Regions from separate parts of the Homo sapiens genome. Here all the other regions are linked to region 1. The links come from fine-mapping of genetic effects on gene expression. A gene starts in region 1. Each other region holds a variant in brackets. All regions are shown on one strand. Distances are between the middles of the regions.

Region 1 (11,245 bases):
CTTGGAGCAAATATGACAAGAGCTAACTAAAGCTAATAAAAAATCTGCAGGCCCACTAGTTCCTCTATACCCAACTATTATAAAAGACTGCTTCCACACTGCTAAAAGAATATATAATAGCACAAACATAATAAGCTTTGTTTTAAAACATGGGTGAAGTCATTAATTGATAGAATTTATCAGTCATATCTGGGCACAGTATATATTAATGATCCTAAAATTTTAATATTTTTCCAAAATTACCAGCTCAAAATTAAATTCTACTACAACCTATCTGATGAATACACAATATTCACAAGCAAAGCACATTAAAGCCATAAAAACTAAGCTTCTCTTTTTCACACTAGAAAAGCTGGTCCATCTATCATGTACATCAAGTAACTTTAACCACGAAACTTGTATGTGAATGAATATTCACCAACATGAGTTGTAAATGTAACAGGTAAGAGTACCCACTGTAACTTCAAACTCACCTACAAATGACCTAAGCAGGATAAGAATACATATTCACATCCAAAATCACTAAGACTATAAAACCATCTTCAGAATCCAAGTTCTGTATGACACTAGCATCTGCCACCCACCTGGCACTTGACGTTCTCCTACATAAAAACAGGTAACCAACCAAAATGGTTTTTAATATTTAATTGCACCAAAGTGCTAGTACGTGTAGATATGTGGATGTGGGGCTGGGGGACAGAACCATCAGCGATACTGACGTTCTCTTCCTTCAGCACCCTACACATACCACCAGAGTTGCAATCATCAAAAACAGAATAACTCATTTGGACAACACCCAAATATATTAGACAAAGCACCTGAAGAGGCTGAATGAAATTTCTATATATGAATTGTTACACCTACATGGTGTTTCCACGGCCAGTAACAATGGTATGCTGAAAAATTAATGCCCACTCCCCAACCCCGATTACAGAGCAATTTAGACTTGGAAGGGAATAGAGCCAAAATTTATTAATATTTTGATATACCTTCCTAGTGACAAACTAAACTCTATACCCTGGCTGGGCAAGGTGGCTCACGCCTGTAATCCTAACACTTTGGGAGGACGAGGCAGAAGAACTGCTTGAGCCCAGGAGTTTGAGACCAGCCTGGACAACATGGCAAAACCCCATTTCTACAAAAAATACCCAAACTACATGCCTCCTGTAGTTCCAGCTAACTTGGGAAGCTGAAGTGGGAGGATCATTTGAGCCTGGAAGGTTGAGGCTACAGTGAGCTGTGATCACACAACTGCACTCCAGCCTGGGTAAGAGACCGAGACCCTGTCTCAAAAACAAACAAACAAAAAATCCTCTACACCCTATCAAATCCTACTGCATTTTAAAGTTCTGTTATGGGCTGGGTGCGGTGGCTCTCGCCTGTAATCCCAGCACTTTGGGAGGCTGAGGCAGGCAGATCACCTGAGGTCAGGAGTTCAAAACCAGCCTGGCCAACATGGTGAAACCCCATCGCTACTAAACATACAAAAAAATTAGCCGGGCGTGGTGGTGAGCACCTGTAATTCCAACCACTTGGGAGCCTGAGGCAGGAGAATTACTTGAACCGGGGAGGCAGAGGTTGTAGTGAGCTGAGATTGAACCACCGCACTCCAGCCTGGGTAACAGAGAGCTCTGTCTCAGAAATAAAAAGTATTGTTGTTATTAAAAAAAAAAAAAAAAAAAAACTACAAATACACACACACACACACACACACAAATGTGATCAGGAGTACAAAGTATCTAATAACTAATATTAAAGTGCCTTTTCAAAACTACTTACCTAGAAACATGAGAAATTAACCAGAAAAATTTTAAATCAGTTCATTTCAATGGCAAGTATCTTACAGCAACATAATAAAAATGGCTGTTTTATGAAGAATGTTTCTTTAAATGACTCTGCCCCTCTAATGCATCTCATTAAAAACTGTCAGCCAGGCGCGGTGGCTCATGCCTATAATCCCAGCACTTTGGGAGGCCTAGGCGGGTGGATCACCTGAGGTTAGGAGTTCGAGACCAGCCTGATCAATATGGTGAAACCCCATCTCTACTAAAAATACAAATATTAGCTGGGCATGGTGGCAGGCACCTGTAATCCCAGCTACCCGGGAGGCTGAGACAGGAGAACTGCTTGAACCTGGGAAGCAGAGGTTGCGGTGAGCCGAGATCACATCACTGTACTCCAGCCTGGGCAACAGAGTGAGACTCCATCTCAAAAAAAAACAAAAAAAAAAACTGTCAAAAGATACCTTCTCTTGAAATGTGGCTAATTATATCACTCTCCTGCTCAAAGTCCTCTCTCACTGCCTTGAAGATAATTTTCACATTTCTTAGCCTAGAATCTCTCTCCAAAGCTTCTGTTTCAAGCAAAACAAACCACTCCCCATTCCCTACATACATCCTTGACTTAGCATTGACTTACACTGACTGCTCTCTGCCTAAAAAATCATTCCTCCATTCAAACCTTGCCAATATTTTTTTAAAGCCAGCTAAATATCTCCTTCTTTACGAAGGTTTTCCTGATTCCCTGACTGAACTCATATAAGTGCACCTCTTAGGGGACTTAATGCTTTCTCATACTAATTCTTATTAGTTACTCTCCAACACGAGAACAAGCTACTTATAGACAGGTTCTGTGTTTACCTTTTTACTGCCCATAACTGATCACAATAGTCACTGGGTTTAAATAACTGAAACTGAAACTATTACTCCAGTAAGAGTCTCCAATCAGGTACCATGGGAGGGAAGACAGAGGTAATTGCAGTGTATCACGCATGTGAACATCTACCAGTGGTCTTTAAAAACCAATGTCACACTATTGTCATCTCTACATGCTAAAATATGTCTAATTTCACTTATATTTTCTTTTGGCCAGGATGCTTAACGCTGGTTTAAACTGCCTACAACACAGCTCCCAAGTGTAACAGCATTTGCAAATATTGATCCTATGCTCACTACTGTAGTGAATAGAAAGTCCTTTGTCTACAGAACTCTAACACAGCTATAAGCAAGAACTCTCAAAGAGCAAATCAAAGATTAAGCAAATCCAAGAGGCAATCTGAATTTTAGTTCAGAATTTTAAAATCAAGTATAAAACCTTCTCTGAATCTGAAATCACAAAATTCTGATAAAGAGAAATGAGGAAAAGTATCTGGGATGTAAAGCAAGTTTTTAAACATATGATGCTGAGAATCATCTGGTATACATCACTAAAGTATATATTTCTATTCATAAATTCTTACTGTGTAGAACAAAAAATGGGAAGAAAAAAACCTCTGGGAAGCACAAACAGCTGTGGAACTAGTTACTCTTATTGTTTTAATCTACTATGTCTAACAAGACTCGTGAATTTATTTCCAAGTCCATAGTGAACTATGTGCAAATTATGTGGTGAGAGGCTGCCTACACATGCTGAAAGCAGAGAAAAGTAAATGTTGCCAGCCTAACAGTAAAGTAAGATAGAGGGAAAAAATATGAAGAGTAAACTGAAGAGCTCAAAAAGCATAGCAGCCTGAGAGTAAAGGGGGCAAAAGTTCCTACAAAGCTGGCGGGGTCTTCATGGCTTCACCATGTTACAGCATAACACAATAGTTAATCTTCACTATGTGAAAACTTGGTTATCAAGTAAATTATGTTTCTTAGTTTGTTAAAGAAGTTGTGACAGCATTTAGAAAGGCATTATCCAAAAGCTGTGCTCTTTAGAGATAACCTTTAGTTCCTCAGAAAATTCAATTGTGTGGAATATTCCATTTCTTTTACACACAGAATGAAGATTTTACTCCTTTATACCAAATCGTTTTGTATCTTCTTGATTAAGATAACTATCAATATTTGTGATTATGAGCTTAGACTTAACAACTCATACAAACAATGGCAGCACTAAGCAACACAGCAACTCCAGCACTTCCTTACACTTCTTTAAAAGTAACAAGTTCCTAACACTGAAAGTACTTGCCTTTTTTTAGGTTCTTAAGTCTCAGGCACTAAAGTAAATTTTAAGAAAATTAATTAACTCCAGACATTCAAAAGTTAATTCTGAGTGCTAACTTTGGTTTTCTCTTCTTCTAATTTTTAATCATCTAATTCCTGGTAACACTAAAAATAAGGATATATGATTTCTCATTATCAAAATCATCCTGTCATCACTACTCCTATCAATGATGGTAATAATGTGATTGTCCTGAATTGATATAATTATCAAAGAACATCTCAGAAAACTTAGGAAGGCTCACAGAGATTAAAGTTATCACAGCTACAAAATGACAGCAGAAACAGGTCTGATTTCTAGTTAAGTATGCATCTACCATTCATCAAAGAGTTCACAATCCGAATGAAAATTTAAACAAAGCTCATTATCTTAACTTGTTATATAAAAACACTTTCACCATCTTTGATACAAAGTGATGTGAACGAGGCTTGTGGAAGCCTGCATGATGGTGGATTTGCACTCACTCGTGCATGCTTAACTGACCTCAATTGTGAGCAAATCTGAAAGACCAGCAACAACCATAGAAAAACGGTGGAACTAACCGGCTCTTAAAACACGCTGGCAGCAACACTACCCATTCCAACAGGCAAAATCCACCACAAACTACTAAGCTCAGCTTGGAATCCCAATTAGGCACTTAAAAAAAAAAAAAAAAAAGCACAAAACCTGCAGTGGGTAGGGCCTATTCATTTAGGCATCCAACAGTCTTCCAGCTTTTCAAAGACAGACACAGGATTATTCCTGGATTGGTCAAACATAACGAAGTATTCAGAATGAATATTCTCTAATAATTGCATATAACTATAAACAGAAAAATGACAGACCAGAAAAACACGATTCTAATTCTTCACAAACCTTTCCTAAAAAATTAGCCAAATAAAAGTTCGAAGGTTTTCTCTTGCCTAGAGACATCTAAAAGTGTTATTTTGGGATGTTACCTGTAAAAAAAAAAAAAAAAATTGGTTTGACCCTGAGAGATTATAATAAATTTCAAAAAATTTGAAGTGGAAGTCTACATTAAATGACTCAGGAATTTGAAGTCAGAGTACATAGGATACACAAGATTTACATCAGTATTCATCTTAATTATGATCAAGCAGCCCAAAGTTAGAATTTCAAATTTCCCCAAAAATTGATAGTTAAAATGGTTTTCTCCAAAGTGAATTCTTTTGCAAGATGAACATTTAAAAAAAAAAAAAAAAGAACAGAAAAAGTACAAACTACAGAACCTGCCTGCGTTATCTACAGATTACCTAAAGTTCCCTTAGAAACAGATAACCAGGAAAATCAATATACCATGATATTAGGTACACCTTGCATTCATATATTACAATGCATTCTTCATGTTATTATCTTCCAACTCCCTGAAGAAAGCTTCGGAGTACAGAGAACTTGGCTTTTAGCAATCCATCACCAACCCAATTCTTAGGGGAAAACAGTCCAGAAGAGACAAAGGAGGCAGAGAACCCACCAAACAAAAGGAAAAGGCGGCGAAGGTCAGGTGCGAAAGCATTTGACGGACAAGTTTTGAAAAAACTCAATTCCAATTCTACAGATGCTCAGTAAGTGAGAAGGGAGGGTGGCTAAAAGGATTCAATAATACTTCTCATTAGCAGGGGGGAGAAAGGATTAAAAGACTAATTTCCACGTTTTCGCCAAAAATATAAGTTAATCAAGCCCTAGCAGTTCCGAAGCAGTGATTATCCAAGACTTGTCAGGAAACCCCGTACTCGGCTTTGGCAGCCAGACTGACCCGGGGCAGCGGCCGAGGCGGAATAGGAAATGCAACCGCGAGGCCTGCACCGTCCCCTCCGCCTCGGGTGCTGGTTTCCAACCGGGCGAGGTCACCGGCCCAAACCGGGGAGCGGGACCCTTGGCCCGGGCGGCCTTCTCCCCTCCCCTCCGCTTCCGCTGGGGGCAAGCGCAGAGGCCGGGCTCGGCCGTCACCCCGCCCCGAGCCTCACGGCCCGCATCTCCATTTCCCCGCCTGCCCCTCACACTGGGAGCCGCCCGCTCGCCCCGGGACGCGGGGCGCCCCTGAACCCGCCCGCGCCCCTAGCCACGACTCCCGTCCCGAAAACTACGGCTGACGGCAGAACGAGACCCCCGAGGAGCTGCGACCCGCGGGCCGTGCAGGAGCCGGGGGTGCGCCCGCCCCGGCTGCTCAGCCCCGGCCCCTCAGCCCTGGCGCCCACCGTCAGGCCGGTGCCCAGCACGATCACGTCGTACTCCTCATTCATGGCGGGGCAGGCGCGGACGCAGGACCCGAGCAAGGAAAAGGCGCAGGGGCTCCGTGACCACCCTACGAGGCTGGGAGGCGCTCTTGGGCGCGAAGGAAAGGGGAAGAGAAAGAGAGGAAAATGGAGCTGGCGACAAGGCGAGACCGACCGCCACCTCAGACGGGAAGAGAAGAACTGGGCGGGGAGAGGAGGGGAGGGAGCGAGGAGGGGAGGGCTGTGACTGAGCCTCCGCAGCCGGGGCGGGGCCTGCAGGCGCCGGGAGGGCCGCCAATCAGGCGCTCCCGGCACTCTAATTGGTTACGTCCCCGTCGCTCGCACAACTTTTTTTCCTTCCCCGCCTCTCGCGAGAGGAAAAGGGCGGGGCGTCGCCATTTTGGCTTCCGGTTCCCCTTGCGGCCTCTGCCACGGTGGTTCGGGAGGCGGCGCGCGGGCCGGGGTGGAGGTGCACGGAGCCGCGGGCGGGGACTGCTGGCCACCACCGTTCTGACTCCCGCCGTCGGGGCGGGAGCTCGCTCGGTCCAAGGTCCCAGAGCCGGATCGCCGCCCTTGGACTTTGAGCGGGCGCGTGCGGCGGCCACGTGGGCGAGGAGCGCGGGCCGGGCTGCCTCTCGGGGGTGGCGGCCTTGGTTCCTCCCGCGGGGCTGGGCTTGCCGGGGCCCGGAGCCCGCCGGGAAGAGTTCGGAAATCACACGTGTCCTTTTTCCCGCTCTGTGCCCTCCTTGTTTAGTGCGTTGCCGGTGGGCGCTTTAGGAAATTGGTAGGAGGAAAAGCGGCTTCTTTTGAAAAGGTAACCCTTAACAGAGATGAAAGTGAAAGCCAGGTTTCATTGGGAAGCCGATCTGCACCTACCGAGGGCTGTAACTTAAAGCCGCTGTAAACGTGGTAGCTGATCCTTGTATGCAAAGGTTTAGGCCCTAAGCTTAGAAACTGTTCCTTGCTTGCCTTCTACCCCGCTCCTCTTTTTCTAGAATTCTCTTAGGAATCTCTGGCTTCATTGAGGACACAGGTGTAAGCAGAAGCTGTGTTCTCAGCTCCAAGAGGCCGACCCCACGAAAGCCTAAGCAGGTGAATTTCGTAAAGACGTTGACAGTTGGAAAACCTGTGCTTTCAGCACGTGATAAATCTGCAGAGTCAGCAGACAATGAAGATTTGGCATTCAAGAACTCCTCAAATACTTCTCGATAGTAGCTATTCAGAGCCTGCCTTGATAGACCGAACTTGCTCATATTTAAATCATTAAGATAGAGGAAAGAATGTAACAACTTTTTAAAATGTTTCTTACCCCATAAATACTTGAAGAAGATATGTTATATTGGACCATGGATCTTTCTGGGGGGGAGGGGAGAAGAAAGCAAAAGTAAAGTTTAAATTTACATTCAACCTTAATTTGATTGTATATATTTGTGACCAAATGAATTAGTGCACAGTTGACCATACAACTGATTATGCAACAGTGAGTGTAACTGACTTTTCTTTTGGCTAAGCTAATGATGACTAAAGAAGGTCCTTCTGTTGCTCTGTCTTCAAGTCATCAGGGGGTCATACTACCTATATTTTTGAACCAATATGAAATAACCCTTTTTCTTTATTTTTCTGAGACAATCTCACCCTGTCGTCCAGGCTGGAGTGCAGCGGTGTAATCATGCCTCACTGCAGCCTTGATCTCCTGGGCTCAAGCCATCCTCCCACCTCAGTCTCCCCAGTAGCAGGGACAAGAGGTACAGGCCACCACACCTGACTATTGGCCCTTTTTTTTTTATTAGCAATAACAATAAAGAGCTTTTTTCACAATTGCCATCAGCCTCTGGCTCTTGAAGAGAAATTTAAGCATGTCAACTGAATTATGTTAACCATGTTTTAGGTGAAGACTATTTTATCGATACTCAAGAGTTGTGAGAAACTTGAAGACACTGAGATAAGGGAATTGAATTTAAGGCTAATAAGGATCCCTTCCTTACTTAACACTGAAGTTCATTTTAGTTCACAGTACAGGCCCTATGGCCCAACAGAAGGACAATAACAATCAAACCTGGACTAAGCCTTAACGGACTGAGTGCATCTAAAATGTTGTACCTGAGCCAGGCACAGTGCTTCACACCTGTAATCCTAACACTTTGGGAGGCTGAGATGGGAGGATCACTTGGGGCCAGGAGTGGGAGATGGGAGAATCACTTGGGACCAGCCTGTGCTGTAGAGCCTAGGTAACAGAGACACTGTCCCTATAAAAAAAATTAGCTGGAGGCCGGGCACGGTGATTGATGCCTGTAATCCCAGCACTTTGGGAGGCTGAGGTAGGCGGATCACAAGGTCAGGAGTTTGGAGTTTGAGACCAGCCTGGCCAATATGGTGAAACCCCATCTCTACTAAAAATACAAAAATTAGCCGGGCATGGTGGCACGTGCCTGTAGTCCCAGCTACCCGGGAAGCTGAGGCAGAGCAATCGCTTGAACCCGGGAGACGGAGGCTGAAGTGAGCCGAGATCGCGCCACTCCACTCCCGCCTGGGCAACAGAGTGAGACTCCGTCTCAAAAAAAAAAAAAAAAAAACTGGGCAGGCTGGGTGCAGTGGCTCACGCTTGTAATCCCAGCACTTTGGGAGGCCAAGGCGGGTGAATCACGAGGTCAGGAGTTCAAGACCAACCCGTCCCAAGATGGTGAAACCCCGTCTCTACGAAAACTACAAAAATTAGTTGGGCGTGGTGTCAGGCGTCTGTAATCCCAGCTACTCAGGAGTCTGAGGCAGAGAATTGCTTGAACCCAGGAGGCAGAGGTTGCAGTGAGCCAAGATCGTGCCACTGCACTCCAGCTTGGGTGACAAAGCGAGACTCAGTCTCAAAAAAAAAATCAGCTGGGCATGGTGGCATGAGCCTGCAGTCCTGGCTACTCAGGAGGCTGAGCTGGGAGGATCACTTGAGCCCAGGAAGGTCAAGCCATGATGATGCCACTGCACTCTAGCCTGGGCAACAGAGCAAAACCCTGTCTCAAAAAAAGAAAATTCTGTGCTTTTCTTGGATCTTCCACCCCACCCATTCCAGTTGCAAGGGAACTTGTAGATGACAAATACTGCTTAAGGTGAAGAGGCTTGAAAGCCACTAATTGGTTGAGTTGATCTCATGCCACAGATGGTAGTTCCTGCTACAGTGAAACCTTAGGTTTAGGGGAAGTAGGTTGGTTGGTGAAGATGAGTGGTAAACATCAATCTTTATTTTTAATTTTATTTTTTGGTGCCAAAACCCAAGATCAAACCAGGACACCATCAATCTTTAAAATATTTCAAATCTTGAAATCAGCCAGGTGTGGTGGCACATGCCTGTAGTCCCAGCTACTCGGGAGACAGGCAGGAGAATCAGTGGAACCCGAGAGGCTGAGGTTGCAGTCAGCCAAGATCGCGCCACTACACTCCAGCCTGAGTGACAGAGCCAGACTCCGTCTCAAAAAAAAAATAAAATAAAATATTTCAAACCTTTATGCAAAGCAGGAATCCATGGAGTCTTATTTATACTTGGGTACATGGGAATAATTGTTTGCTGATCTGTTTTTACTAAGCATCCATCTGCCCTTTGAAAAGGAGAGATTTAATCTAAGGAAAGAAAATGAGAGCGAACCTCAGCCCAGACCATCTTTTTCTCTCCTGCATCACTGTGGCAGTTTCTCAACAGGCTTTTTTCCCTCTCTTTTTCCTCTTCTCCTATCTGTTCTGTCCATTATCTTCTAAAAACACGCATCAGATCATGTTCAGGCTTCTGTATATCTTTTGTACTTAGAATACATTGTAGATCCTAGCCAGGCATGGTGGCTAACGCCTGTAATCCCAGTGCTTTGGGAGGCTGAGGCAGATCACCTGAGGTCAGGAGTTCGAGACCAGCCTGACCAACATGGTGAAACCCCGTCTCTACTAAAAATACAAAAATTAGCCTGGTGTGGTGGTGCACATCTGTAATTCCAGCTACTCAGGAGGCTGAGGCAGGAGAATTGCTGGAACCTGGGAGGCAGAGGTTGCAGTGAGCCAAGATGGCGCCACTGCACTCCAGCCCGGGAGACAGAGCAAGACTCCATCTCAAAAAAAAAAAAAAAAAAAAAAGGGATACATTGTAAATCCTTAAATATGACCTAATACCTTAATCTAGCCTCTGTATGTCTCTCCAACTCTATTTTTTAGTGCTCCTTGGCTCCTTGATCATTAAACCCCAAACATGCATGTGTTTCGGTTCCTAGAATCTGGTCAAGCTTTCAACCACCCGAGGGCCTTTGTACTCTTGGTTCCATGGCTACCACCCCTCACTTCCCCCTGCACTTCTTCATACAGCTAACTTTTTCCACTTCCTTAGGTCTCAGCTTTCCCCTCAACCATCATTCTCTATCAGTACCCTGCTTGTTTCTCACTGCTCTTATTAGAGGGGGTAATTATTTTCTTCACTTGTTCTTTGCTTTTCAAATTGGATGTAAACTCCATAGGGGCAGGGATATGAAGCCTGGACAGCCAGTAAAGGGCTGAGCAACTAGTAGAGGATGAGTAAATATTTGACAAATGAATAGGGGACTTGGAAGTTGAGCCCTAGATCAACAAGGACTGAATATGATGATATTGGTACTAGTTTCCTTTTTTCTTTTTTAAGACAGGGTCTCACTCTGTTGCCCAGGCCAGAGTGCAGTGGCACAACCATAGCTCTGTGCAGCCTCAGCCTCCCGGGCTGAAGTGATCCTCCCTCCGCAGCCTCCTGAGTAGCTAGGAGTACAGGCATGTGCCCACCATGCTCAGCTAATTTTTGTATTTTTGGTAGAGATGGAGTGTCACCTTGTTGCCCAGACTAGTCTTGAATTCCTGGGCTCAAGCAGTCTGCCCACCACAACCTCCGTAGGTGCTGTGGTTACTGGTGTGAGCCACCACGCCAGGCCCCAGTTCCTCTTGATACTTTGGAGAAATACAACTTTTCTTCTAGGAAGAGATATTAAAACTAATATTTTAAAGAGTCTTAGAGATAGGTATCTATAAAACATAAACCTGTGTAAAACCTGGATAGC
Region 2 (11,245 bases), 41 kb after region 1:
AGGCGCACACCACCATGCCCAGCTAATTTTTGTATTTTTAGTAGAGACAGGGTTTCACCATTTTGGCCAGACTGGTCTCGAACTCCTGACCTCAGGTGATCCCCCCACCTCAGCCTCCCAAAGTGCTGGGATTACAGGTGTGAGCCACCACACCTGGCCTAATTTAAAAATTTTTTGTAGAGACAGGGTCTCATTGTGTTGCCCAGGCTGATCTCGAGTTCCTGGGCTCAAGTGATCCTCCCTACTAGGCCTCCCATAGGATTATAGGCTTGAGCCACCATGATAGGCCACGCTGTGATTTAAACACAGAGCTCTCTGGTGTGGTCCATCCATTCTACCAACCTGTCCTTTACTGCCCAGAGCCCTGTGGCACACAGGAAAATAACATTTCTTTCTTCTTTCTTTTTTTTTTTTTTGAGACAGAGTCTCCCTCTGTCGCCCACACTGGAGTGCAATGGCGGGATCTCAGCTCACTGCAACCTCCGCCTCCCGGATTCAAGCAATTCTACTGCCTCAGCCTCCTGAGTAGCTGGGAATACAGGTGCATGCCACCACGCCCGGCTAATTTTGGTATTTTTAGTAGAGACGGAGTTTCACCATGTTGATCAGGCTGGTCTCGAACTCCTGACCTCGTGATCTGCCCACCTCGGCCTCCCAAAGTGCTGGGATTACAGGCGTGAGCCACCACGCTCGGCCTAGGAAGATGACATTTCTAGGCCCTCCCAGCATCTGGGTGGAGTCACACACCTAGTGTTGCTAATGGAACATGGCCAGAGTTGAGGCCATTGGCAGGCCTGCCCACAGAAGGGCTGTGTGACAGCTCCTGCTGTCTCTTTCCTCAGTTTGTGTGACTGGAAGCCAAGGAGTCCAAGCTGGTGACACTGCACAGCAGAAGGAGCCTGTGTCCTTGAGTTTACCGCTCAGCGGAAAACCATCTTGGTTCAGGGAAAACCCATGAACCAAGAACATCCACGTCAGACATTTCACAGACGAGAAATAAACATTTACTCTGGTAAGTTCCTGAGATTTTGAGGTTGATTCTTTCAGCAATGATTGAGAATCTGGGCTCCAAATTCAGTTTAACTCATTTTTTTTCCTGTGGTCAGCTAAGAAATAGAGTTCATTTATGCCCTTTCAGAAAGAGCCAAATTGCCACATGGATTAGCATCTCATCTAGGGTTGCCAGACTTAGCAAATAAAAATACAAGACAGGCCAGGTGCAGTGGCTCACACCTGTAATCCCCACACTTTGGGAGGCTGAAGTGGGCAGATCACTTGAGGCCAGGGGTTCGAGACCAGTCTGGCCAACACAGTGAAACCCCCATTTCTACTAAAAAACACAAAAATTAGCCAGGCGTGGTGGTGCACGTCTGTAATCCCAGCTACTCAGGAGGCTGAGGCAGGAGAATTGCTTGAACTCAGGAGGTGGAGGATGCAGTGAGCTGAGATTGTGACACTGCACTCCAGCCTGGGTGACAGAACGAGAGCCTGTCTCAAAAAAACGAAAACAAACAACAACAACAAAAATATAAGCCACCTAGTTCAACATGAATTCAGATAAGCCACAAATACTTTTTTAGAATAAATAGGTTTTGTGCAATTATTTGGGACATTACTGATAACAAGAAATAACTCATTGCTTACCTGAAATTCAAACATAACCAGGGGTCTGGCATCTTACTTGGCCAGCCAAGTTTCATGCTATCACATCCACATCTTGACTCTGCTCAGAAAGAGCTGCCCAACTTCTCCACCAATCAACTTCCTTCCATTCCTCAAGTCTTGGCCCTCATTCCACTTTCTCCAGGAAGACTTCCCTTCCAGCCTCGCCTTTCTAGCTCTCTGGTAGTCCTTATCACACTGCACTTGTCTTATGGTGATGCCAGTCTTGCTCTTCTTGTATTATTATTGTTGTTATTAATATTAGAGATAGAGCCTTGTTCTGTCTTCCAGGCTGGAATGCAGTGGTACAATCACAGCTCACTGCAGCCTCGACCTGGGTTCAAGCGATCCCCCCCGCTTCAGTCTCCTGAAGCTGGGACCACAGGTGTGCACCACCATGCCTGGCTGATTTTTTATTTCTTGTAGAGACAGAGTCTCCCTATGTTGCCCAGGCTGGTCTCAAACTCCTGGGTTCAAATAATCTTCTTTGAGCCTCAGCCTCCCAAATTGCTGGGATTACAGGTGTGAGCCATTGTGCCCAGCCCTGGCTCTTCTTGTTTTTGTTTGTTTGTTTTTTGAGATGGAGTTTTGCTCTTGTCACTGGAGTGCAATGGTGTGATATCGGCTCACTGCAACCTCCGCCCCCTGGGTTCAAGCAATTCTCCTGCCTTAGCCTCCCAAGTAGCTGGGATTACAGGCGCCCGTCACCACGCTCGGCTAATTTTTTTGTACTTTTAGTAGAGATGAGGTTTTGCCATGTTGGCCAGGCAGGTCTCAAACTCCTGACCTCAGGTGATCCACCTGCCTCGGCCTCCCAAAGTGCTGGGTGTGAGCCACCACACCCGGCCCTGGCTCTTCTTTCAGAGGTTGATTCTTGAAGGTGAAGACAGACTCTTTGTTCGCTGCTCCTCCCCTGTATCATTCATTCATTCAGCAAACATCCACAGAGGATCTCCTCCACGCCTGGCACACAGCAGGCATGGACACTGCTCTTGGGGACCTTCCAGTTTTGTAGGAAAGGATGCTATTCAAAAACCATATGAACGAATATTGTCAATACCTGGAAGGAATGTTACAGAGTGCTGAGAGAATTTGTCAGGAAGGGCCTGCTTTTATTTGTTGATATTTATTTACTTATGGTAGACATGGGGTCTTGCTATGTTGCCCAGAATGGTCTTGAACTCCTGGGTTCAAACGATCTTCCCACCTCGACCTCCCAAAGTGCCTGGCCTGATTTTTAGTTTTAATCCTTTATTTTTATTTTTATTTTTTTAGAGACAGGGTCTCATTCTGCTGCCCAGGCTGGAGTGAAATGGTGCAATCATAGCTCACTGCAGTGTCGAATTCCTGGGCTGGAGCAATCTTCCCATCTGAGTCTCGAGTAGCTGGAATTACAAACATGTGCCACTACGCATAGCTTTATTTACTGATTTTCTTTTTTATTTACTGATTTTCTTTTCTTTTTTCTTTTTCGAGACAGAGTCTTGCTCTGTCACCCAGGCTGGAGTGCAGTGGCGCGATCGCAGCTCACGGCAAACTCTGCCTCCCAGGTTCAAGCAATTCTGCCTCAGCCTCCTGAGTAGCTGGGATTACAGGCATCTACCACCACAGCCGGCTAATTTTTGTATCCTTTTTTTTTTTTTTTGGAGATGGAGTCTTGCTCTGTCACCCAGGCTGGAGTGCAGTGGCACAATCTCGGCTCACTGCAAGCTCCGCCTCCCGGGTTCATGCCATTCTCTCGCCTCAGCCTCCGGAGCAGCTGGGACTAAGGGCGCCCGCCACCACGCCCGGCTAATTTTTTTGTTCGTTTGTTTTTTAGCAGAGACGGGGTTTCACCGTGTTGGCCAGGATGGTCTCAAACTCCTGACCTCGTGATCCGCCCACCTTGGCCTCCCACAGTGCTGGGATTACAGGCGTGAGCCACCACACCTGGCCTATTTATTGATTTTTTACAACCACTTTATTGAAGTATGAGTGACATACAAATATGCGCATATTTAGTGTATACAGCTTGATGAGTTTGGGGATAAGTATGCACCCGTGAAACCATCACCAAAATCTATGTTAGAAACATACCCATGACCTCCAAAGGATTTCTCCTGCCATCTTTATTATTATTATTATTATTTTATTTATTTATTTATTTTTTTGAGACGGAGTCTTGGTCTGTCGCCCAGGCTGGAGTGCAGTGGTGCCATCTCGGCTCACTGCAAGCTCCTCCTCCCGGGTTCACATCATTCTCCTGCCTCAGCCTCCCGAGTAGCTGGGACTACAGCCACCCGCCAACATGCCCAGCTAATTTTTTTGTATTTTTAGTAGAGACAGGGTTTCACTGTGTTAGCCAGGATGGTCTTGATCTGCTGACCTCGTGATCCGCCTGCCTCGGCCTCCAAAAGTGCTGGGATTACAGGCGTGAGCCACCGCGCCCGACGTATTTTTTATTATTATTGTGATAAAAATACTGCAATGATCAGAATGTTTGTGTTCACAGGTGGAACAATTCATAGGTGGAAACCCTAACTCCCAAGGTGACGGTATTAAGAGGTGGAGCCTTTGGGAGGTGATGAGGTCATGAGAGTGAGGCCCCCATGAATGGGATTCGTGCTTTTTTTTTTTTTTTTTTTTTTTTTTTGAGACAAAGTCTTGCTGTGTCGCCCAGGCTGGAGTGCAATGGTGCAATCTCAGCTCACTGCAACCTCTGCCTCCCGGGTTCAAGCGATTCTCCTGCCTTAGCCTTCCGAGTAGCTGGGACTACAGGCGTGCATCACCGTGCCCAGCTAATTTTTGTATTTTTAGTAGAGATGGAGTTTCACTATATTGGCCAGACTGGTCTCAAACTCTTGACCTCATGATCCGCCCGCCTCGGCCTCCCAAAGTGCTGAGATTACGGGCGTGAGCCCCTGTGCCCTGCCAGGTTTGCTGTTTTTAGATGCCACATATGAGTGAGATCTTACAGTGTTTGTCTCTCTGAGCCTGGCTTGTCTCACCCTAACATCACGTCCTGCAGCTTCATCCACGTTGGCACAAGTGACGTGACAGGATTTCAGGAAGGATTTTTAGAGTGGAATCAGCGATGGTTCCTGTCCAGGGAGAGACATTCAGGCTGTGGCAAGAAGGGCGAATAGGAATCAAACTCATGACAAGTTGAGAAAAGAAATTTCCAGGAAGACACTGAGGTGGAAGGAAATCGGCTTGGTCCGTTTTGTTTGAGGAACTGAAAGGAGGCCTGGGGCGTGAAGAGAGGGTGAGTGAGAGGCGTCTGCGGTGACAGACTGGGCTGTCCCTCTGGCCTCCTTGGCAGTTCTACCCTGAGAAGTAAGAGGCAGGGAGGGGCACAAGCTAATCTGTTTCTAGCTTTCCCAGGCTGCTCTGTGAGAGTCACAGAAAGGGAAGTACAAAAGTAGAAGTAGGCTGGGCACGGTGGCTCACGCCTGTAATCCCAGCACTTTGGGAGGCTGAAGCGGGCGGATCACTTTAGGTCAGGAGTTAAAGACCAGCCTGGCCAACATTGTGACCCCCACCTCTACTAAAAAAAAAAACAAAAATTAGCTGGGCGTGGTGGCAGGTGCTTGTAGTCCCAGCTACTCAGGAGGCTGAGGCAGAAGAGTCGCTTAAACTCAGGAGGTGGAGGTTGCAGTGAGCCGAAATCACACCCCCTACACTCCAGCCTGGTGACAAAGTGAGACTCTGTCTCAAAAACAAAAACAAAAACAAAAGAAAACAAAAAAGTAGGGCCGGGTGTTGTGGCTCACGCCTGTACTCCCAGCACTTTGGGAGGCCGAGGAGGGCAGATTACCTGAGGTCGGGAGTTGGAGACCAGTCTGACCAACATGAAGAAACCACATCTCTACTAAAAACACAAAATTAGCCGGGTGTGGTGGCACATGCCTGGAATCCCAGCTACTCGGGAGGCTGAGGCAGGAGAATCGCTTGAACCCAGGAGGCGGAGGTTGCGGTGAGCTGAGATCACGCCGTTGTACTCCAGCCTGGGTAACAAGAGCAAAACTCTGTCT[C/CA]AAAAAAAAAAAAAAAAAAAAAAAGTGGAAGTAGCAAGGCCAGTGATGAGGCCATCCCAGTAACTCAGCCAAGGGAAACATGGCAGAGCCCATGTCTGAAAGGTGCTCCCGCATTTCCACTCCCACCTGTTCTTCCAGAACTTTACCACTCCCATCAAGAGGTGGAGTCTACTTCCCTCACCTTGAACCCGGGCGAGACTTTGACTGCCTTGACAAATGGATGTGGCAAAGCGACGTTGCATGACTTTTTTTTTTTTTTTTGAGATGAGTTTCACGCAGTCTCAGCTCACTGCAACCTCTGCCTCTGGGTTCAAGTGATTCTCCTGCCTCAGCCTCCCGAGGAGCTAGGATTACAGGCAGGAAAACAACAGACCACACCATGGTTCCACTGGGGCTTGAACCCAGGACCTTCTGCGTGTAAAGCAGATGTGATAACCACTACACTATGGAACCACAGGCTAGCTGAGTTTCAAAGCTAGACTATGAGGCCATGAGGCTGGGCACAGTGGCTCACACATGTAATCCGAGCACTTTGGGAGGCCAAGGTGGGTAGATCACCTGAGGTCAGGAGTTCGAGACCAGCCTGGGCAACATGGCAAAACTCCGTCTCTACTAAAAATACAAAAAAAATTAGCCAAGCGTGGTGGCATGTGTCTGTAGTTCCAGCTACTTGGAAGGTTGAGGCAGGAGAATTGCTTGAACCAGGGAGGCAGAGGTTGCAGTGAGCTGAGGTCGTGCCACTGCACTCTAGCCCGGGCAACAGAGCGAGACCCTGTCTCAAAAAAATAAATAAATAAATAAATACATAAATAAAGTTAGGCTATGACAGGCAATATGGCCTTGCCTGGCGCTCCCTCCCTCTCTCTCAGCTCACACCAGCCCACATGGAGAGACCGAGGGAGAGGCCCATGTGAGGAGGAACTGAGGTCGTCAGCCAGCAGCATCTGCCAGACATGGGTGATTTCAGCCTTCAAATCTTCCAGCTGCAATCCCCAGTCCCTGGGAGCAGAGACAAGCCATCGCTGCTGGACCCTGTCTGAATTCCTATACATAGAATCCATGAGCATAACAAAGGGCTGCTTTACACGGCTAGATTTGGGGGTAATTTGCTGTGCAGCCACAGTACCTGGAACAAGAGGACAATGGCTGGAGTTGCCTAGTGGCTGTCGGTGGGCTTGTTGAAAGTGGACCTATTTGAGATGCTGAATAGAAATTGAATTAACAAGATGTAGTCATGAAAGGGACAGAAAATGTCTTAATTATAAAAAAATTATAAAGACCCAGCCAGGCGTGATGGCTCATGCCTGTAATGCACTTTGGGAGGCGGAAGCGGGCGGATCACCTGAGGTAGGGAGTTTGAGATCAGCCTGACCAACATGGTGAAACCCCGTCTCTACTGAAAATACAAAATCAGCTGTGCGTGGTGGCGGGCACCTGTAATCCCAGCTACTCAGGAGGCTGAGGCACGAGAATTGCTTGAACCCAGGAGGCAGAGGTTGCAGTGAGCCGAGATTGTGTCATTGCACTCCAACCTGGGCAACAAGAGTGAAACTCCGTCTCAAAAAAAAAAAAAATAAATAAACAAATATAAAGATACAAACCAGGCACGGTGGCTTACGCCTGTAATTCCAGCACTTTGGAAGCTGAGGTGGGTGGATTGCTTGAAGCCAGGAGTTTGAGACCAGCCTGTCCAACATGGTGAAACCCCGTCTCTACTAAAAATACAAAAATTAGCCAGGTGTGGTGGCACACACCTGAGTGTGTGTGTACCAGCTTCTCAGGAGGCGGAGGCATGAGAATGGCTTGAACCCAGGAGGCGGAGGTTGCAGTGAACCGAGGTCATGCCACTGCACTTCCATCCCCAGGGAGGGAAGGAGCAAAAGAAAACTAGGAAAAGGGGCTAAAAATGGTGCTTGTCTCACTGCTTTCTTCAGTTGAGCTCTTCTTGGTCTTGTGCTGGTAACTTGATGATTTTCATTCGCCTTTGACGACTCAGCCCATTAAGCCAAAGAGGCTCACCTGGTGCTACTCAGCCTGGGTGACAGAGGGAGACTATGTCTCAAAAAAAACAAAAAACAAAAAATACAAATAAAGATATGAAGGAAGGCCCAGTTAGAATACATTTTTGAAAATACTTCTTTACATTTTTAATGACGCATGCATTTCATATTGAGAGCTTCATTCTTTCGGTTTAATAATTTGATCCTTGTTAAAATGCAGACAATTGGCTGGGCATGGTGGCTCATATCTTTGGGAGGCTGAGGTGAGCAGATCACTTGAGCCCAGGAGTTTGAGACCAGCCTGGGCAACATGGTGAAACCCTGTCTCTACTAAAAAAAATACAAAAAAATAATTAGCTAGGTGTGGTGGTGCCTGCCTGTGGTCCCAGCTACTTGGGAGCCTGAGGTAGGAAGATCGCTTGAACTCAGGAGTCAGAGGCTGCAGTAAGCCGGGATCACACCCCTGCACTCCAGCCTGACAGTGAAATCCTGTCTCAAAAAAAAAAAAATGCAGACAACTCAAGGATTGATAAAATTTGAAATTTTTTCATTAACACCTTAGCATGAATGAAGACTGAAACCTAGTTTTCTTTTTGATAAAGACAATGGAGGCGTCCAAGGGCTAAGGACATACATCCCCAGGGAGGGAAAGAGAAAGAGAAAAAGTAGGAAAAGGGGCTAAAAATGGTGTTTGTCTCACTGCTTTCTTCAGTTGAGCTCTTCTTGGTCTTGTGCTGCTAACTTGATGATTTTCATTCGCCTTTGACGACTCAGCCCATTAAGCCAAAGAGGCTCACCTGGTGCGACTGTTACTCACAATGGCTCACACGTGTTGGGTGCACGTGCTGGGCCAAGCATCATGCACGCTGTAAGGTATATAGATGTGATTTGGTCAAGGTAGAGACCGAGGCGGATATACAGGCCTGCACGGCTCAGTGAGTTTGGTGCGCAGGCGCACACCTCCGCTTGTTACATAACCTGTTTGTGTAAGTTCATACTTGGCTCTGAGCCACTATTGTCTGTAAAAGGTATAACTGCCCTGCTGACGCCGTACAGGTGCTTTTGAGGCTCAGCTTGGCTCGACATGGCTTGATGTGGTGGGTGCGCTGGCGCCCAGAGAAAGGGAGACAGCCAAAGCTGTCCATCTTGTAGACAGACAGGAGGGAGCCAGGACACAGCTCTGCTTGCTTGTGCCAGAGAAAGAAAGAGTTAAGCTGCTGACCCTGAAGGCAAGGGAGAGCCGGGGGTCACAGGAGCCACAGAGCCAAAGCAAATAGCAGAGATAAAGGTGGACAGGGTGAGAGAGCTAATGTGAGTAAGCTGCTAATAAAAAGCCATTGATGAGAACTGCTGCTGAATAAAACCATATTCACCTGCCTAGGCCCCCTGCACCAAAGCGTTTCTGCTCATCCACCCCACTCACCTTGGACTTCAGCATGGGCTGGACCTGGACCGGGGTCTGACACACACCAACTCGGTTAATCCTCACAGTAAACCTGGGAAGGAGGTGCCATTTTGCCCATCGTTTACCAGGACACTGAGAGGCAGGGAGTGTGACCTGCATGAGGTCACTTGGAGCATCACTGTAGGGGACTAACACCCTACACGGCTATGCGGCCTTGTTCTCTGCTCCGAATGCCATCTTCACAGATTGTTCTCATGTCCCTTACAACTGCGTATCTATAAATAAGTGGATTTGCTCTCTGGTCTCTAAGACTTTAAAAGCTAAGGTTAAGGAGTGTGTGTGTTAGGGGAAGGGTGGGGACAGCAGCAAAGACTTGCACAGATAATTGTCCCCAAATAGTCTCAATGAAGGCACCTCTGATAAGGGCATATGGCAAAGCCCTGAACCATCCCTAAATTTCAATTTTCTTCTAGCAGTCATATGACTGATCTATGGTCAGGAGGATGTGAACAGAAATGATCTACATGCCTTCTGAAAAAAAGGGGGCATGCATAGCCTCCCTTTCATTCTTTTTTCTTTTATATATTTTTTTTATTTTATTTTTTTCGAGACAGGGTCTCACTCTGTCTCCCAGGCTGGAGTGCAGAGATGCAATCTCAGCTCACTGTAATCTCTGCCTCCCGGGTTCAGGCGATTCTCCTGCCTCAACCTCCCAAGTAGCTGGGAGTACAGGTGTGTGCCACCATGCCCAGCTAATTTTTGTTTGTTTGTTTTGAGATGGAGTTTCGCTCTTGTTGCCCAGGCTGGAGTGCAATGGCACGATCTCGGCTCACTGCAACCTCCGCCTCCCAGGTTCAGGAGATTCTCCTGCCTCAGCCTCCCGAGTAGCTGGGACTACAGGCATGTGCCACCATGCCCGGCTAATTTTGTATTTTTAGTAGAGATGGGGTTTTTCCATGTTGGTCAGGCTGCTCTCCAAGTCCCGACCTCAGCTGATCCACCCATCTCACCCTCCCAGAGTGCTGGGATTACAGGCAGGAGCCACGGTGCCCAGCCTAATTTTTGTATTTTTAGTAGAGGCAGGGTTTCACCATGTTGGCCAGGCTGGTCTCGAACTTCTGGCCTCAAGTGATCCACCTGCCTCAGCCTCCCAGAGTGCTGGGATTACAGGTGTGAGCCACTGCGCCTGGCCCTCCCCTTCATTCCTGTTCCCCTCCACAGGTTGGGGAGCAATCTTGGACCACATGGAAAAGGGCAACCTACTCAGGACAGCAGAACAACCAGCAGAAGGAACCGGGGGGCTGACACCTGGGGCTGGTTGAGCTCATCTGTACTTGGCTATGCCCAGACTCTTATGCGGGAAAGAAAATAAACTTTGGTTTAGTCCACTGTTATTTTTTGGTCTTTATTTAGAGACAGGGTCTCACTCAGTCACCTAGGCTGGAGTGCAGTGGTGTGATCATAGCTCACTGCAGCTGTGAACTCCTGGGCTCAAGGCATCCTCCAGCCTCAGCCTCCCAAAGTGCTGGGATTACAGGTGTGAGCCACCCCACCTCCATCTAATATTAAATCACAAAATGGAATTATCTAAGTCTGTATCAGCTGGAAGAGAGGAAAGGATGTGGTAGACCCAAGGCTCTGTGTTCAAGGGACAGGACGAGCCACAAGCTGGATTTTGTTCCTACGTCTTTTGCGTTCATTTACCTTTTAGCTAATCGTGGATTTTCAGCAACACTGGGAAAAATAAAGACCATGCATGTTGTAGGCTGGCACAGGTGGAAGCTCTAGAACTCTGAGAGCTGCTTTAAAGGTACCACATACTGTAATCTAAATAGAAACACCCTATCATATCCAAGGAATCTGTGCCATCCCACTCCCAGCATTGTAGTGAGTGCCTGTGTATGCCTGTATCTACTCACAAGAGCTCTTTTTTTTTAAAGGAGCTATAAAGGAGATTATTTCTGCTGTGCTGTAGTCTGTTTTTTTTTTTACTTGTAAATGTATAACCCAAATTTTGTCATTATTTGAAATTATGTGTAGAGCTAATTTACCCAATATAAAAATGACTCTTACAAATCAACAAGACAAAACAATGGTCAAAAGATGAAGCAAGAACTGGTTTCATTAATGGCCCCAATCAATGGCCTCTGTGTCCAGTCTGTGGG
Region 3 (7,615 bases), 110 kb before region 1:
TGGCAATAGTAGCTACCATTGTAGGAGGTAGCTGCATCATTTTTTAATGGTAGAAATTAAGACAGGTTAAGTAGACACTTTTAGTCTAACATGTTCAATTGTATACACTCTTTGGAAGTCTCTCTTAAGATTATAGTAAAAGAATAAGGATATAAATCCACAAAGATCAAGAGGAGGTGAGAGGAAGATATAGCTGAAATCAGTATTTGGGAAACTAGAAAGGAGATGGGCAAGTAATAAATGATTTCATGAATTAGAGAATGCTGAAAGCTGAAGAGAGGTAACCCAGCAAGGAGCAAGCAGATTCTTTCCACAGAATCTGGAAAAGTTTTAGGAATTGGGGGTATCAAGTACAGGACTTCTGAAGTCAAGAATTACAGGATGGGGTGGGAATAGAAGGGTTGGTTGATGGTCTTTATCATTTTGATACCCTGGAACCCCTTCTCCACTCCCACACACCCAGACAACTACTCTCTCCTCTACCTTGACGGAAGACTGAAGGTTTATACCCAGGAGACTAGGAGGCTCCAGATGGTTAAGGTGGGGGTGAAGCACCTAAATGAAAATGAGGATTGAGTGAAAGTCAGGTCAACATGCTGAACCTAGAGCGGTTGTCTTTTTTTGATTGGCTTCCAAACTATCAGGCTTACGTGCCCCTCAACAAAACATTAACGGATTCTTAGCTGGGGAAACTTACCAGCCCATGGCACAGTATTTAACAGATATGAACTATGGAAATTCACCCGATTGAACAGTTGGATCCATCAGATCACCTGGAGAGTACAGCCGCTGGTCAGGAAGCATTGTTCACGTACCACAGCTTCTAGTCAACTTTTATTTCATTTTTTGAGACAGGGCCTCACTCTGTCACCCAGATTGAAGTGCAGTAGCGCCATCATAACTCACTATAGCGTTGAACTCCTGGGCTCAAGCCATCCTCCCACCTCAGCCTCCTGGGTAGCCGGGAATACAGGCGTATGCCCCCACGTCCAGCTGATATTTTTATTTTTTGTAGAGATGGGGTCTCACTATGTTGCCAGGCTGGTCTTCAACTCCTGGGCTTGTGATCTTCCTGCCTTGGCTTCCCAAAGTACTGGGATTACAGGTGTGAGCCACTGGTGCCTGGCCCTAGTCAGCTTTTAAATGCCTCACATTTGAGTATAAATGTACAGCCAAGGGTCGCCTGCCATAGAATGAAAGTCTCTAATGAAAAAGAGACCAAGTAGGAAATAAAAGGAGCTGAGTATAAATAGATTTACTTCAGGGAACAGAAGAAACTTCAACAAATAAAACTAGTATCTTTAAAGAGAAGATATTACATCTGTGAAAGATGAAAAAGTTTATATAAAAAAAACTGCTGCGACAGAAGAAATTTCTTAAAAATTTAATACAAGGTTTAGATAATAAAGCTGAAGAATTCTCCCCAAAAAACCAGAAGAGCACAAGAATTAGAAAATAAGAGTGAAATGATGAGAAAATTAGAGGGCCAACCAAGGAGGTTCTTCATCTAATACAGTGGAAGGAAACTATCTGTGTCCCAGAACTGAAGAAGGTGACTTTCTAGGTTGAAAGGGCCTATTAAGCGCCCTGATCAATAAAACAGAAACAAACAAAAAATAAACAAAACTTCATTGTACCGAATGTATAGTTCCAAAAGGAACAAGACCAGATTGATTTTCTTCCTACTTCTGAAAAGAAGAATGGGGGCAGAGAACGAGGTGCTAGCTCTTAAACTGCATTTTAACAAATTCAGGGAAAAAGGAAACCTTAACTTTAAATTGTATGCAAGTGCTGTTAGGTATCCCCAGTGGGAAGTTCCAACAGTTCTGTGACAAAGATAAAGTTGCGCAGAAGAAGCATATTTCAGGTATCTCCAGCAACTTATTCATATCCAGAATCAGCCCTATCCAAAGAGAGAAGTCTCGTATACCTGGCTAAGACTGAGGAGCCATATGGTATCAAGGAAGGAGAAAGCAGAATGAGAAAGTGCCTGGGTGGGGCATGGGGGAGGCAGAGATCTTAGTGCTAATAAAGTACTCCTAGAAATGAGTGCATAACCTTGGAAAGCAAGGGTTGTGTCTCTAAGAGGCAAGCAGAGCTGGCAATAAAGGCCCTCCTGAACCAGATTACATTTGGAGATTAGATAAGGAACAAGGCACCATATTATAAAACAGCAGTCCTCTGATTTAGGAACAGAGGGAACCCTAAAGAAACATGACAAGTGCCCTACCCCTCCCTACACCCTGAATCTTCTGATAACAGTCCAGGATAATTCATCTCATTCAGACATGTATAACAAAAATAGTATGTACAGCATCCATACAGTGACTGTCTGGTAGATGGTATTTTTTATGTTTTATGTTGGTTTTTTGTTCTTTTATATTATTTTTATTATTGAAGATATAATTCACATGCCATAAAATTCACCATTTTAAAGTGTACAGTTGACTGGCTTTTAATTTATTCCCAAGGTTGTGCAATGATCACCACTACCAATTGCATTATTGACCCTAGTGCTTTACTTTTCCTTATGTTCACTCCATGACCCTATGCAGTTCCTTTCATTAAAGTGACAGAGATATTTCCCTACTCCTTGACTTTGTGTTTGGCTATGTGACTTGCTAAGGTAAAAGTGATAACATATCAGTTTCAAGCCTAAGCCTTAAGAGGCCTTGGGTATTTTTATTTGTTCTCTTTCTATCTGTGCCATTTCCATGAGAAAAACATGTCTCTGCTAGCTCATTGGTTGAGGGAAGATGAGAGATAGGAGAGTGAGGGCCACCCCAGCTGAGTTAAGCTGAATTCAATGAACACTGTAGAGATGTGAGTGATAAAAAAATGATTGTGGTTGTAAGCCAGTGAACTTCAGGATGGTCTGTTAATAAACATTAGTTAACCGAACAGTTATATGATTAAAAATAAAAAAAGAGAGAGAAAAACCACAATTTTCTACAGACGATATTTTTCAAAACAATATTAGCAGAAAATAAATCACAAGTGGTCAAGCTACTGCCTGTGGTCTTGCCTATTTTTGTAAATAAAGTTATATGGGGACATGGTCATTCCTATTTATGCATTTTCTATGGCTGTTTTTATGCTCTACCGGTAGAGATGAGTAGTTGTGACAGAGACCGTGTGGTTCATAATCCTAAAGTATTTATTTTCTGACCCTTTATGAAAAAGTTTGCTGACCTTTTGAAGTAGATGGAAAATGTGACCTAAGGTTTTAATACAAATTTTAAAATAAATTTATATACCACATCATACCCATTAAGATAGCTGTAATCAAAAAGACAGATAATAACAAGTGTTGGTAATGCTGTGAAAAAATTGGAACCTTCTGTATACTGCTGGTGGGAATATAAAATGGTGCAGCCACTTTGAAATCAGCCTGGCAGTTTCTCAGATGAGCAGACACAGATTTACTGGAAGAGCAAGCCATTCTACTCTAAGGTATATACGTAAGAGAAATGAAAACATGTTCACATAAAAACTTATACATGAATGCTCATAGCATAATTATTCATAATAGCCAAAATGTAGAAACAACCCAAATGTGCATCAGTTGATGGATAAACAAAATGTAGTATATCCACAAAGTGGAATATTATTTGGCATAAAAAGGTATGAAATATTGATATATGCTTTAACATGGATGAACTTCAAAAACAGGCTAAGTGAAAGAAGCCAATCATGAAGGACCGCGTGCTGTATGACTCTGTTTATAGGAAATGGTCTGGAATAGGCAAATCTGTAGAGACCGAAAGTAAATTATGGTTTCCTAGGCCTAGGAACCAGTGAGGGGTGAGGAGGATAGCTAAGGGGTAGAAGGTTTCTTTGGGGATAATGAAAATACTCTAAAATTGATTGTGGTGAAGGTTGCACAATTCTGTGGATATACTAAGCACAATTCTGTGGATATACTAAAAGCAATTGAATTGTACACTTTATGTGGGTGAATTGTATGCCGTATGAATTATATCTCAACATTGTATTAGAAAATAAAATTAATGAAGCATAGAAGTTACGGAGAACTACTGGAAAGAAGAAATACAAGAACTCAAGGAAGAGACAGCCAGACAACAGTAGAGTGTGAAATGGGAACCAGCAGAAAAAAAGAAATAGAGAAAAATGATCAAGCCATTTCAGAAGTACACAAGGGAGACTAGACACCATGGCAAAGATCATAAAAGTAGAAATGAAATTTTATGGTAAGTATATTTTACCACAATTTTGATAATGCAAAGAAAGAAAACAAAAGATAGACAGGAGAAAAATGAGTAAAACAGGTACACATTTATTTTTATTGATGCGTAATAGATGTACACAGTTTTAGGATACATGTGATAATACAGTCATATAATTTGTAGAGATCAAGTCAGTGTAGTTGGGTCATCTGTTACCTTAAATATTTCTCTTTTCTTTGTGCTAGAACCACTCAAATTCTATTCATTTTGAAATATATAATAGATTGTAAACTACAGTCAACCTACTGATCTAACACTAGGTCTTCTATCAAACCATATATTTATACCCATTAATCAACTTCTCTTTATTCCTTCCTTCCTCCTACCCTTTCCAGCCTCT[C/G]ATAACCACCAAATCTACTCTCTATTTTCATGAAATCCACTTTTGTAGCTTCCACATATGAGTGAGAGTATGTGATATTTGTCTCTGTGTGCTTGGCTTATTTCACTTAACATAAAGACCTACAGTTGCATCAGTGTTGCTGAAAATAGCAGGATTTTATTTTTTTTTTATGGCTGAATAATATTGCATTGTGTATACTACATTTTCTTTATTCATCTGTTGATGGACACTGAGGTTGATTTTATATTTTGGCTGTTGTGAATAGTGTTGCAGTAAATACGGGAGTGCAGATGTCTTTTTGATATGTTGATTTTCTTTCTTTTGGATATATACCCAGTAGTGGAATTGCTGGATCATATGGTAGTTCTGTTTTTATTTTTTTGAGAAAGCTCTGTACTCTTTTCCATAGTGGCTGTACTAACTTAAATTTCTACCAGCAGTGTATAAGGGTTCCCCCTTCTCCATATCTTCGCCGGCATTCATTATTGCTTGTCCTTTTAGTAAAAGCCATTTTAACTGGGGCGAGATGATGTCTCGTAGTTTTGATTTGCTTTTCTCTGATCATTCATGATGTTGAGGATTTTTTCATACACCTCTTGGCCATTTTTATGTCTTCTTTTGAAAAATGTTTATTCAGATCTTTTGCCTGTTTTTTAATTGGATTATTTGTGGGGGTGTGTCTGTGTGTGTGTGTGTGTGTGTTTGCTTGCTTGCTTGCTTGCTTCCTTGCTGTTGAGTTGTTTGAGCTCCTTATATATTCTGGTTGTTAATCTTTTGGCGGGTGAGTAGTTTGCAAATATTTTCTCCCATTCTGTGGGTTGTCTCTTTACTTCATTGTTTCCTTTGCTGTGCAGAAGCTTTTTTTTTAGCTTGATGTAATCCCATTTGTCTATTTTTGCTTTGGTTGCCTGTGCCTTTGAGGCCTTAAACAAAAAAAGTTTGGCCAGACTAGTATCCTGGAGTGTTTTCCCAGTGTTTTCTTCTGGTAGTTTCATAGTTTTGGGTCTTAGATGCTTAGATGTAAGTCTTAAATCCATTTTGATTTGAATTTTGTATATGGTCAGATTGTTTTGTTCTTCTGCATGTAGTTATCCAGTTTTCCCACCACCGTTTATCAAAGAGACTGTCCTTTTCCCATTGTATGTTTTAGCTCCTTTGTCGATGATGAGTTGGCTCTATATGGATTTACACCTGGGTTCCCTGTTCTGTTCCTTTGGTCTGTGTTTTGTTTTTATGCCAGTGCTGTAGCTTTGTAGTAAATTTTGAAGTCAGGTAGTGTGATGCCTCCAGCTTTGTTGTTTTTGCTTAGTATTGGTTTGGCTATTCAGGATCTTTTGTGGTTCCATATACATTTTAGGATTTGTTTTCTATTTCTGTGAAGAAGAATGTCATTGGAATTTTGATAGGGATTGATTGCATTGAATCTGTAAATTGGCTTTGGGTAGTATTCAACAATATGAATTCTTCCAGTCCCTGAGCATAGAGTATCTTTCTATTTTTTAATGTCCACTTCAATTTCTTTCATCATTGTTTTATAGTTTTTCTTGTATAGATCTTTCACTTCTTTGGCTAAATTGATTCCTAGGTATGTTATATTCTTTGTAGCTATTGTAAATGGGATTGCTTTCTTGATTTCTTTTTCAGATTGCTTGCAGTTGGTGTATACCAACGCTACCGATTTTTGTATGTTGATTTTGTATCCTGCAACTTTACTGAATTTGTTTATCAGTTCTAACAATTTTTTTGGTGGAGTCCAGGTTTTTCTAAGTATAAGATCACGTTATCTGTGAACAGGCTTATTTGACTTCTTCTTTTCTGATTTGGATGCCCTCTATTTCTTTCTCTTGCCTAATTGCTCTGCCCAGTACTTCCAGTACTATATTGAATAAAAGTGGTGAAAGTAGGCATCCTTGTCTTGTTCCATATCTTAGAGGAAGGGCTTTCAATTGTTCCTTGTTCAGGATGATGTTTGCTATTGGTTTGTCATATATGGCCTTTATTACTTGAGATACGTTCCTTCCATACCCAGTTTGATGAGGGTTTTTTAAAATCATAAACAGATGTTAAATCTTATTAAATGCGTTTTCAGCATCTGTTGAAGTAATCATGGTTTTTGTTCTTAGTTCTGTTAATATATCACATTTATTGATTTGCACATGTTGGACCATCCTTGCATCCCTGGGATGAATCCCACTTGATCATGGCAAATATCTTTTTACTGTGTTTTTAAATTTGATTTACTAGTATATTGAGAATTTTTGCATCTATGTTTATCTGTGATATTGGCCTGTAGTTTTCTCTTCATTGTCTCCTCTGGTGTTAGTATCAGAGTAATGTTGACCTTGTAGAATGAGTTTGGAAATATTTCCTCCTCTTCAATTTTTTGAAGAGTTCAAATAGAAATTTATATTAGTTCCTCTTTAAATGTTTGGTAGAATCCAGCAGTGAAGCTATAAGGTCTTGGGCTTTTCTTTAATGGAAGAGTTTTTATTATAGCTTTGATCTCATTACTAAAATGGTCATTTTTTTTTTTTTTTTTTTTTTTTTTGGTAAGTAAGGATAGATACGACAGCCAAAAGAGATCCAAAACGGGCAAAACTGGAGCCCCAAAAAAGAAAACCGATTCCGTAGAATACATAATTTAAAGTATAATTTAAGATGTTTCTTTTCCTTAAAGAAAGGACTTAAATCTATTGAAAAGACACAACATGCTCCAGGGAAAACTGGCGCAACATTGAGACATATTCTGGTAAAAAATTTCAACTGGCAAAAGATCATATAAAGAAAATCAGGTTGGTGCAGAATAACAGAAACATTCAATACCAGAAAATAGTAGAGGAACTACATGTCAGCTACTCAAAGAACATGTGAGCCAAATATTTTTTTGTGCTGCCAAGGTGTCCTTTGGGTATAAAGACTATGTACTGGCTGGTAGTTTTAAACATTCAGGGTTTTACATCTTTTTATATGAGCCTTTCTTGAGGAAACATCTAGAAGACAGATACCAGCTAATCAGTAAATGAAAAAG

Evidence for each region. PIP is the estimated chance that this variant, and not a neighbour inherited with it, causes the effect.
Region 2: its variant is fine-mapped to the expression of GDI2 in monocytes after LPS (Kim-Hellmuth 2017, PIP 0.94).
Region 3: its variant is fine-mapped to the expression of GDI2 in whole blood (INTERVAL, PIP above 0.99).

What each region holds. Positions count from the first base shown.
Region 1 is chr10:5,807,035-5,818,279 of GRCh38, forward strand. It overlaps GDI2 (GDP dissociation inhibitor 2), which reads right to left and starts at 6,400. Exons shown (of 11, transcript NM_001494.4): 1 at 6,180-6,400. The coding sequence starts at 6,224. LOC124902367 (a long non-coding RNA gene) reads right to left here and starts at 6,163. Exons shown (of 2, transcript XR_007062041.1): 1 at 5,281-6,163; 2 at 1-4,922. RefSeq lists silencers at 5,681-6,220, 6,361-6,630, 6,691-6,870 and enhancers at 5,822-6,414, 6,415-7,007, 7,071-7,170, 10,531-10,600, 10,621-10,740.
Region 2 is chr10:5,847,656-5,858,900 of GRCh38, forward strand. TRV-TAC3-1 (tRNA-Val (anticodon TAC) 3-1) reads right to left here and starts at 6,128; the gene lies at 6,056-6,128. RefSeq lists enhancers at 4,647-4,696, 4,827-4,916, 5,011-5,180, 5,437-5,496, a cis regulatory region at 5,096 and a silencer at 5,977-6,177. The variant C/CA (reference allele first, on the strand shown) is at 5,676.
Region 3 is chr10:5,695,527-5,703,141 of GRCh38, forward strand. The region is part of intron 1 of TASOR2 (transcription activation suppressor family member 2); the gene reads left to right. Among named protein-coding and RNA genes, the nearest start is that of TASOR2, 14 kb to the left of the region's middle. The variant C/G (reference allele first, on the strand shown) is at 4,588.